2 separate regions of the Homo sapiens genome follow, and region 2 is linked to region 1. A link means that fine-mapping ties the variant in region 1 to the expression of a gene that starts in the linked region. Tissue or cell type: prefrontal cortex. Region 1 holds a variant in brackets; the other region holds the start of a gene. All regions are shown on one strand. Distances are between the middles of the regions.

The links. PIP is the estimated chance that this variant, and not a neighbour inherited with it, causes the effect.
Region 2: SMAP2 starts here. The variant in region 1 is fine-mapped to the expression of SMAP2 in prefrontal cortex (GTEx, PIP above 0.99).

What each region holds. Positions count from the first base shown.
Region 1 is chr1:39,639,371-39,644,521 of GRCh38, forward strand. HEYL (hes related family bHLH transcription factor with YRPW motif like) reads right to left here and starts at 273. Exons shown (of 5, transcript NM_014571.4): 1 at 176-273. The coding sequence starts at 255. RefSeq lists silencers at 50-119, 240-629. The variant C/T (reference allele first, on the strand shown) is at 3,019.
Region 2 is chr1:40,370,668-40,375,818 of GRCh38, forward strand. SMAP2 (small ArfGAP2) reads left to right here and starts at 3,060. Exons shown (of 10, transcript NM_022733.3): 1 at 3,060-3,556. The coding sequence starts at 3,454. RefSeq lists silencers at 2,803-3,122, 3,193-3,332 and an enhancer at 3,318-3,817.

The DNA of each region.
Region 1 (5,151 bases):
GCGTGTAACGGCACGGCCCGCACACGCCCCCTACGCCGACACCTGTGGCCCCCGCGCTCACCTGCCTCTGCCCAGGCGGTGCTGGAGGGCTGGCCCGCCTGCTCGGCGAGCCCGTCGGGCCGACCCCCACCCCGCTCGCCCTCCGCCTGCTCGGTCCCCGCATCCCGGCCCTTACCTCAGCTGGCCCTCTTGGCCCACGTCGATGGGTCCGTCGGACTCCCCGTCGGAGCCGCTCGGCTCCTTGGGTCGCTTCATGGCGAACGCAGGCTGCCTGGTCTCAGCCCCGCGGCTAAGGCTCCCAGTCGGGAAGTCAGGCCCCGCCCCGGCCCCGCCCCGGCCCCGCCTCGGGGGCGCCGCCACCGCCCTTTCCCAGGGCCCTTTCCTGCGCCGCAGCTCCGGGCGCCCAGGCGCCCCCTCGCCCCCGCGGTGACGCGCCGCCGAGCCGTGGGAAGGCCCTAGGCGGTCGCCGCCTTCATCGACGGCTGGGAGGTCCGGCTCTGCTCCGCTGTCTCGGCTGCCGCGCGCTGGGTGGCCTTGGGCAGGTGCCCTGGGAGGCCCCGCGGGGAAGCCAGGAGTCCCCGTCTGTCCCTGGGTCGCCTGGGCGCTGCTGGCCTGTAGAGGCGCCGCTTCGATGCCCGGGATTCCGCAAGGGTCAACCCTGCGCGCTCCTGCCTCCTGGTGTTCTGGAGGCAGCAGACACATCAAGTTTGTCGAAGTTAGTCGTGGTGGTTGTGGCCTGATCCTCAGCAAGAATTCCCCAGCAGCAACTCCATAGGGGCCCAAAGCAAGTGGAATAGTGTGGTGGGGGCAAGGGGAAGACACTTACACTTCTGAGAGGTGGCAGTCACCCCCAAAAGGGACGGCTGAAGTTGTGGCCACCGCATCTGAGAAAGCTGGGCTCTGGCCGAGGTCCCTAAAGGCCTGGCGTGGTGGCAGTGGTGGGTTGTCCCTGGGAATCAGTTCCCAGTTCACCAGAGGTCGAGTTGTCCTGGGCGGCCAGGAGGCCAGGAAAGGGCTCCTTCTAGACGCTATGGCAGGGCCTCAAAGTGGGAGAAGGAGAGGAAAAGGGAAGATACCTTCCAGCCTCTCTTCCTGGGGCCTCTGCTTCTGGCAACCCATCAAACTGTTCACTCAGGGAGGGCTCTAGCTGCCCTGTCCTTAGGGGGACTTGTGGGAAGTTCTCAGATTCACCGGTCATCCTCAGGCGCCCAGTACCTCAGAGAAGCTCCTAAGGCTCCAAAGGAAGCTGCATGAGAGCATCCTGGAGCTGGACTTCTTGGGCAGGGAAGAGGAGATAGAGGAGGTCTTGGTGTGCTGGGTTAGATATGAGAGGTCTTTTCCTTTTTACCCGCCACCAGGTCAGGACCTGAGGGAAGCCACCCCTTCAAGTGGGAGAATCGGGTTGGTCATCTGAGAATAACTGTGCTTCCATCCCCACAGCAAGGCCTGCTTGCTGGGGGACACTTGATTACTTGATGGGAAAGAATGTTCCTGTGCCCCCGTCCACACACATCCACAGACACAACCATTTGGCCAGGTATGCAAACACATACACACGGACAGACTTACAAATATATACTGGTAGGCGCAACTGTCGTGAGCAATCAGTACCAGGAAGCCCTGGTGGTCGCCCCAGCCACAACTATGGACTCTCATTCCAAATGCCCTCAGCACTCACATCACTTCTGTGGGCACATGCCAGTCAGTGGAAACCTCAACTAACAGAGAAGTTGCACAATGTGTTATGCATTCCCTGGAAAGGCGGAAGTCAAGGAAGCCTCCCAGATAGCTGCCCTGTGTAATTGGCTGAGATAGCAAAGATTGGAAGAGGAGCAGATTTGCAGGGGAAGGTCAAGGGCCCCGTGATGGACGTTTCATGTGAGATGTCTTGGATCATCAAAATACAGTGCACAGTTAAATAGAGGGTATGGAGTTCAGAACAGAGGTCTCAGCTGGATATTAAATTTGGACGTCATTAGGTAATTGATGGCATTTAAAGCTATGGGAGCAGATGGGATCATTCAGAAAACGTGGATGGAGACAGAGCAGGGGCCTAGCTAAATACTTAACATTTGGTGAGCCCTTATTATAAAACCTGAAACTATTCTAAGTCTTTTGTAAATATTAACTCATTTAATCCTTGACAACCCTATAAAGTAGTAATATTATAATCCCCACTTTACAAGTGAGAAACAAAGGCTGAGAGGTAGACTAACTCCACCTAAGGCCAACAGGCAATAAATGGAAGGGCTGGAATTCAACAAGGCAGTTCAGTTCCAGAGCCAAAACATTAGGCTTTATTACTTTATACAGTACTCCCCCTTCTTTTAAAAATAAAGACAAGGATTCACTCTGTCACCAGGCTAGAGTGTAGTGGTGCCATCGTAGCTCACTGAAACCTTGAACTCCTTGGCTCAAGTGATCCTCCCACCTCAGCCTCCTGAATAGCTCAGACTACAGGGGCATACCACCATGCTCAGCTAATTAAAAAAACAACATTTTGCCAGGTGTGGTGGCTCACGCCTGTAATCTCAGCACTTTGGGAGGCTGAGGCAGGCGGATCACAAGGTCAGGAGATCGAGACCATCCTGCCTAACACGGTGAAACCCCATCTCTACTAAAAAATACAAAAAATTAGCCAGGCGTGGTGGCAGGCACCTGTAGTCCCACCTACTCGGGAGGCTGAGTCAGGAGAATGGCGTGAACCCGGGAGGCGGAGCTTGCAGTGAGCCAAGATGGCGCCACTGCACTCCAGCCTGGGCGACAGAGTAAGACTCCGTCTCAAAAAAAAAAAAAAAAAAAAAAAAATTTTTTTTGGTAGAGATGAGATCTCACTATGTTGCCCGGGCTGGTCTTCAACTCCTGGGGCCAAGCAATCTTCCCACCTTGGCCTCCCAAAGTGTTAAGATTACAGGAGTAAGCCACTACACCCCGTCAATTATACAGCTCTTAAACATTGTGATATATTATCCAGTACTGAGCCTAGAGCTATGCCATCAATATAATAGCCACGAACCC[C/T]CTATGGCTATTAAGTACTTGAAATGTGGCTGGTCTGAATTGCTGTATGTGCAGTGAGTATGAAATACACACCAGAATTTTTTTAAGTGTGAACTATCTCATTGATATTTTTTGTTATGATTACATGTTGCAATGATAATATTGTATAAATATTGGATGAAATAAAATACATTAGTAAAGTTAACTTCCCTTGTTTTATTTTTAGGTTTTTAAAAATGTGACTACTAGAAAATGTTAAACTGCATATTTGGCTCCCATGATATTCCTATTGGATGGTGCTAATCTGGTGCAGGGTTTCTTAACCTCAGGACTACTGGCATTTTGGGTCAGGTCATTCTTTATTGTGTAGGGCTGTTCTGTGGATTGTAGAATGGTAAGCAGCCTCCCTGGCCTCTATCCACTGGATGCCAGTTATACCCGCTCCAGTTGTGACCATCAGAAATATCTCCAGATAAAATACCAAATGTCCCTTGGGGGAGAAATCGCCCCCAGTTGGGAACCGCTAGTCTGGAGAAACTCCAAGATTTAAAGGTTGTAGAAGAGAAAGAGCTGCCAGAGAAGACTGAAAGGGCAGTGGAGGAGAGTGGGGTGTGTGTGGGGGGGTGTGGGCAGGAGCCAAAAGAGTGTTTCAAGGACTTGGTCATGATCCTTTTAAAATGCCAGTCAGATCATGTCACTTCCTGCTCAAAACCATCCACACGCTTCACATCCCATTTGAAATAAAATGCCAACTGCTTACCATGCCCTATACACAGAACAACTGTAATAACCTGGGCACCTTTGAGAGTGAAAGGAGGCAATACTAATAATCATGCCAGGGCAGTTCAGGGCACACTGGAGGTACCATCTCCTAAGCTCAGGCCCCTGCCCATCTCTCCAGCTTCATCCCCAACCACTTTCTGCCTTGTCCACTCACCCACGACAGCCTTCTTGCCATTTGTATTGGGCCATTCTCACATTGCAGGGGCCAGAGCTTAGGATGACAAACATATAGCAACACATATAATGTAATGTCAGTGATATTAATAGATGCTGTGAAATAAGATAAAGTGAGGTGGAGACATAGGGTGACTGGGGGATTGGTGGCTATTTTACTTAGGGGTCAGGAGATCGTCTCTGAGGATGAATCACTTATGCAGAGACCCGAATGGAGAGAGGGAATCTAAGAAGATCTGGGGAAGAGGATTCCAGGCAGAAGGAACAGCAAGTGGAAAGCCCTGAGGTAGGAACAAGCATGGAATATCAATAGAATGGTGATATGGTTTGGATCTGTGTCCCCATCCAAATCTCATGTTGAATTGTAATCCCCAATGTTGGTGGTGGAGCCTGGTGGGAGGTGAGGGAGGTGGATTTTTCATGAATGGTTTAGTCCCATCCCCTTGGTACTGTTCTCATGATAGTGAGTTTTCATGGATCTGGTGGTTTAAAGGTGTGTGGCACCTCCCCTGCTTCCTCTCTTGTTCCTGTTTTTGCCATGTGACGTGCCTGTTCCCCTTTTGCCTTCCACCATGACTGGAAGCTCCCTGAGGCCTCCCCAGAAGCAGATGCTACTGTGCTTCCTGTACAGCCTGCAGAACCGTGAGCCAATTAAACCTCTTTTCTTCATAAGTTACCCTGAAATACAGGGAGGTTAAATAACTTACCCAAGATCACACAGCTACTAAGTGGTAGAAATAGGATTTTAACCAAGCAGTCTGGCGCCAGAATTCATGCTGGTAACCACTGCAACCTGCATTAGAGCTGGGTGGACCAATCAGGAGACTCTTAAAATAGGCCAGGCAATAAGGACTGGATTCGAGTGATACTGGGTTCCTGTCTGGGTGACTGAATGGATGAAGGTGACAAGCACCAAGGGGAAACACTGGAGAAGGGAAGGAGCTCACTATGGCCATGCTGTTTGTGAGACCTAGCGCACACCCAGGAGGAGAACCCAGGGAGAGGTCTGGGCTGGAGGAGAGATTTGGTGGCTGAAGACATGGGATACATGACATATCTGTCCCAAGGAGCTAGTGCAGATCCAGAAGGGAGGAGAACCTAGGCTAGGACCCTGGGAAACAATAGCCAAAGATTCTCTGGGAAGAAGGAGGAGAATCCTGCGAGAATGGAGCACCAGGGACCAAGGCAACCAGGAGC
Region 2 (5,151 bases), 730 kb after region 1:
GACACAGGAAGGGGAATATCACACTCTGGGGACTGTGGTGGGGTAGGGGGAGGGGGGAGGGATAGCATTGGGAGATATACCTAATGCTAGATGACGAGTTAGTGGGTGCAGCGCACCAGCATGGCACATGTATACATATGTAACTAACCTGCACAATGTGCACATGTACCCTAAAACTTAAAGTATAATAAAAAAAAAAAAAAAAGAAAAGAAAATTCTATAACTGGCCAGGCGCGGTGGCTCATGCCAGTAATCCTAGTACTTTGGGAGGCTGAGGTGGGCGGGTCACGAGGTCAGGAGATTGAGACCATCCTGGCTAACAGGGTGAAACCCTGCCTCTATTAAAATACAAAAAATTAGCCAGGAGTGGTGGCACGTGCCTGTAGTCCTAGCTACTTGGGAGGCTGAGGCAGGAGAATTGCTTGAACCTGGGAGGCGGAGGTTGCAGTGAGCCGAGATCGCACCACTGCACTCCAGCCTGGCGACAGAGCGAGACTCGGTCTCAAAAAAAAAAATTTTATAACTAATGTGGAAACAGTTTTATGATAAGATAACATGTGCATGATGGAACAGAGTGAACATTTTTGCAAGACTAGTCAAAGCAAAATTCAAGACTTCAAAAAAAAAAATGTGTACTTGGGAGGAGCAGTTTGCTTTGTTTATATCCTCAGACCCTGGGCTATGCACTCACTTTACTCTGCTATTAGTAATGATAATAAAAAGAGCTAATACTTGATGTATCTGCTAGGATAGGCTAGCTTATACAGTGGTAAACAAACAAAACTCAATGGCAACACAATGCTTATTTCTTGCTTATGCTAAGTTATCCTCTATGGGCTGGCAGAGAGCTCTTGTTTATCAGCTACACAGAAATCCAGGCTAATAGAGCAACCAACATCTTCAGCATCAATAGTTGCCATGCCAGAGGGAAAGAGAAGCACAAGAGGCTCAAAGCAACAAATAAATGCTTCAGAGACAAAGTAATCCATCCTTTCTGCTCAAACTCATTGGTCTTTCCCAATCACTTGAAGGCCAGGAAATAAAATCCTACCATGTGCTCAGAAGGCAAAACGCCAGAAATATTTAGTGAAGAGCGCTAATTGTCTATCATTCACTATCTACCAAGGGCTGTTCTAATTATATTACAGGCATTATCTCAGCTAAGCCTCATAATAATCTTGTGAAATAGGTACTATTAATGTTATCATCATTCCCATTCTATAGATGAAATAACTGAGGCACCAAGAGGCTAAGTAACCTGCTCAAAGTCACACAGATAATAGGTGGTAAAAGCTGAAGATTTAAACTTAAGCATTCTTGCCCCAGAGTCTGTGTGCTTAACCACAAAGCCATGAGATCTCTCACTAGGTGGGAACAATTTGAGAAACACTGCCATAGGCAATGGAGAGCCACTAAAGGATTTTTTAAGCAGGAAGTGTGAGTCCATCAGAATTGGCATTTAAAAGCTCCCTCTAGAGAGCACGGTGAAGGATTAATTTAACCAGATTTAGACTAAGGCAGGAAGGCTATTTGCAGAGTGAGGAGATGAAGATGGGGAGGGCTTGAACTAAGGTACAATCACCACTCACCGCAATTAACTGGGTTTTGTTGTTGTTGTTGTTGTTTGAGACAGGGTAACGGGGTACATTGGGGGTTGGAGGGGTGGTTCTTACTGTGTTGCCCAGGCTGGATTCCAACTCCTGGGCTCAAGTGATGCTCTGGCTCTGGCATCCTGAGTAGCTAGGACTACAGGTATGTGCCACCACACCCAGTAACTAGTTAATCTTGACTGTCTATTTCAACTGAAAAATGGTTATGGTAATACCTACTTGGATGGGTTTTCTGAGGAAAAACACCCCAATGAACTTGTGTGTTTTTAAAAGTCAAGTCCCCTAGGCATGGCTAGAAGGGAAGAGGCTTAGCCAGAAAATTTAATTGTTGTGATTAATAAAGTAATAGAAATGTTTAGTTTTCCTCTGATGAGATGAAAGCTTTGAGGGGATCCTGGTCTTGGGAGAAAGTAAAGAAATGGAGGAGAGGGTTTCACCAGAGTTTAGATAACTCTTAGCATCTGCTTACTATCTTCCCTGATTAATTATTTCCATGGCAGCCAGAGTGACCTTTTAAAACCACAAATCGGATCATGCTGTTTCCCTCTCCCCTAGTACAGTGCCTGATACTTAGAAATTTCTCAGTAACATCGTGCTCAGTGAATGAATGAATGAATGAGTGAATGAAAACACAAGCCAGATGGCAGGTGGATCCCTAAGGAAAAGGACAGCCAATGAGAAATTATCTGTAGCAACGGTGGCTTTGGATGATGATGTTTAATAATCATTTTTAAGGAGTTGCCTGTTGTGTGCTATGCTTTAATCACTGTCCCCCACCCTTCCCAAATAACGTTCAGTAAAAGTCTGCCACAAAAAACTCGCTGTTTTGTGAGAATTTAAGAAATGGAAGAAGAAACAAACTGTCTGGGCACCAGGCCAAACAATATCCAAAAAGGCAGGAGTCACAGAGGAGAGCTAATGAGTATTAGTGGGAGCAGGTATTCCAAGTGAGAGGTGACCAGAGTCCTCTGAAAATGTGGGGAGGGGGTGACGTTCCTATATCCTGGGTTAGGGGCTTGGACTCTTATATTTGGCTGTTGGAAAAAACAAGCTGGAGGACTTTGGGGTATCAACAACCCTCAGGTTACATAAGGATGATCATAGGGTCGTTGTGAGGATTATGTTGGGATAGTTCATGCAAAGCGCTTAACACAGTGCCTAGCGCATAGTAAGAGCTCAGTAAATGTTAGTTGTTGTCTTCCTTCACTTTCTTCCATTCCCTCCACTCCCTTTCTACCAGGCTCCATTCATTCTCTTCCAAGGACACGCAGGGGGCGTGCCCACCCCTTCCCTCCGCCCCCACCCAAGGCCCGCCCCCCGCTTCTCCACGGATTGGTTCCCGAGAGGCGGAGCTGAAGGAAGAGCCCAGTGCGGCGCGGTGGGGGCGGGGCGCATGCGCGAGCTGGGCAGGGTGGAGGTGGGGAGGAAGAGCTGCCGGAAGTAGGCGGTGGAGGTGGTAGCGGAGCTGACGGCAGCTGCCAGGGAAACCGAGGCGCGGGACGCAAGGCCAGCAGACAGGCCGGCCAGAGGGTCATCTGCGTCCGGCACCCAGGAGGCTCGTGGTCCGCCTTTGCCTGGGCTGAGGGTCTCTGGCCCCGCAGCCTCTCTTGGAGGCGGGCCTGTCCCTAAGCCCGCCAAGGGGCGCCGCGCCGAGGGGCTGCGGAGTGGGGGACGGACGCCCCCGACCCGGGAAGGGGCGTCCGGCGGGGCCGGAGGAGAGGGCTCTCCCCGCTCAGGAGGTGCCCCTGGGCGGGGGACCGGGAGTCCTCAACCCCGGACTGAGGCAGGGGTCTCTGGGGGCGAGGAGGGCGCGTCGCCCTCTGCCCCCGCCGGCACCCTGGCCATGACAGGCAAGTCGGTGAAGGACGTGGATCGGTACCAGGCTGTCCTGGCCAACCTGCTGCTGGAGGAGGATAACAAGTTTTGTGCAGATTGCCAGTCTAAAGGTAGCGCATCCCACCTGGCGGGCCAGGGGTCCAGCCGCGCCGGGGTGGTGGGGGTGGGCTGCGTGAAGAGGCGGTTTCTGAAGCTTAGGCCGCCCAACTCGGCTTATAAGTGGTAACGCGTGCTGCGCTTGCAGTGAGCCTACTGGGCTTTCTGCAGCTGGGGGATTGGTATGGGTAGAGCTTGCGAGGGCGAGTCTGTGTGTGTCGGGGAGGGTGGAGGTGATGGTGCGGGTGGAAGTTGCCTGGCGTGTTCAGGTGAGAATGTCTGTATTTGAGGGCTCTGAATGAGTTCTGGGCCGGCTGTCCAGAGAGAGCTCCCAGCATGTCACTTGCAAAGCTGGGGATGAACTGCATTGCGTGCGTGCGTGCGTGCGTGTGTGTGTGTGTGTGTGTGTGTGTGTGAGAGAGAGAGAGAGAGAATGACGAGGAGGAGGAGGAGGGAAGTGAGATGGCGGAAAGGAAAACTGCTTAAATGATTTTTAAAGGTGGTGATTTTTGCTTCCTGCTATTTGGTTAGCAACTCCTGTCATTTTGCAGCCTTGCTAAGATCTGACAAGAGTGCTTAGGTGACTTTATTCTTCTGGATGTGTGCAGTGGGAAACTGCCTTATGCAGTGACACAGTGCGGATTTCTAGGCAGTGTAGCCCTGGCTTGTAGAGTGCGTTGGAGGCCTATGTATGAGTGGTGGCAGAAACTAGCCGATTATGCCTGTAGTGCAGGATCCGTTTAATCAGTGGAGAGAGAAAGATGAATTCGATGAATTCATTGCTTCCATGGCGATTACACTTCTAAAGGTGAAATATGATCATTGTAAATTGGCAGAACCATTTAGTCTTTGTTTTCTGTGCCCTAGAAGATTCATGATTTGATACAATTAAAAGTCAGTACAATAGGAAATCTTGGTTATTAGTGAAATGTTGGCACTTGACATTTATACAAGCTTCTATGAATCTTTTTTTCCTGTATTTTCTAATTCTTTTGGCATATAATTGGAGGATTGGGAAAATTATTTTCCCTTTGGTTGGGTCGAAATGGATAGTTATATTTTGGGGGCGACAATTTACTTTTGTTCATAATGCAGTGGATTTGCCATGGTTGTTTGCCGTACAGCGTAGTGGGCATATACTATAAAACAAAGATTCAGTTATATTCGTATTTATCTATTTTGAGAAAGGAAGGACATATTTAATTGATGCTTTCACTTAATTACCTTTTATTTTTGAAGAATAAGGTTATAAAAGGAGAACAGGGGAGGGATACATAGACACCTAGTAATGTATTTTAGTGACCTCTACCAACAGATAAATGGAATGTGCCATTAGGAAAACAAATTCCTAGACTTCTTTCCTGAATTTTTGCATTAGCAATAATTCATTTTAAAAAGTATTTTAGAATCAATTTATGTTGAGTAGGTTAGCTTCTTGATTCTTGTTACATCTTCTGTTAGGTCTATTGGAAGATTTGGTTTATTTTAGGAGTGTATCTTGGCTTTATTCAAATTCCCTTATGTCCTCATTTGACAGATCTTGAGTCACAGTGAAGCAACCCACTGGAGTGAGCATTGCTGCATTTGGAGAGTCAGATGCCATTTTGGT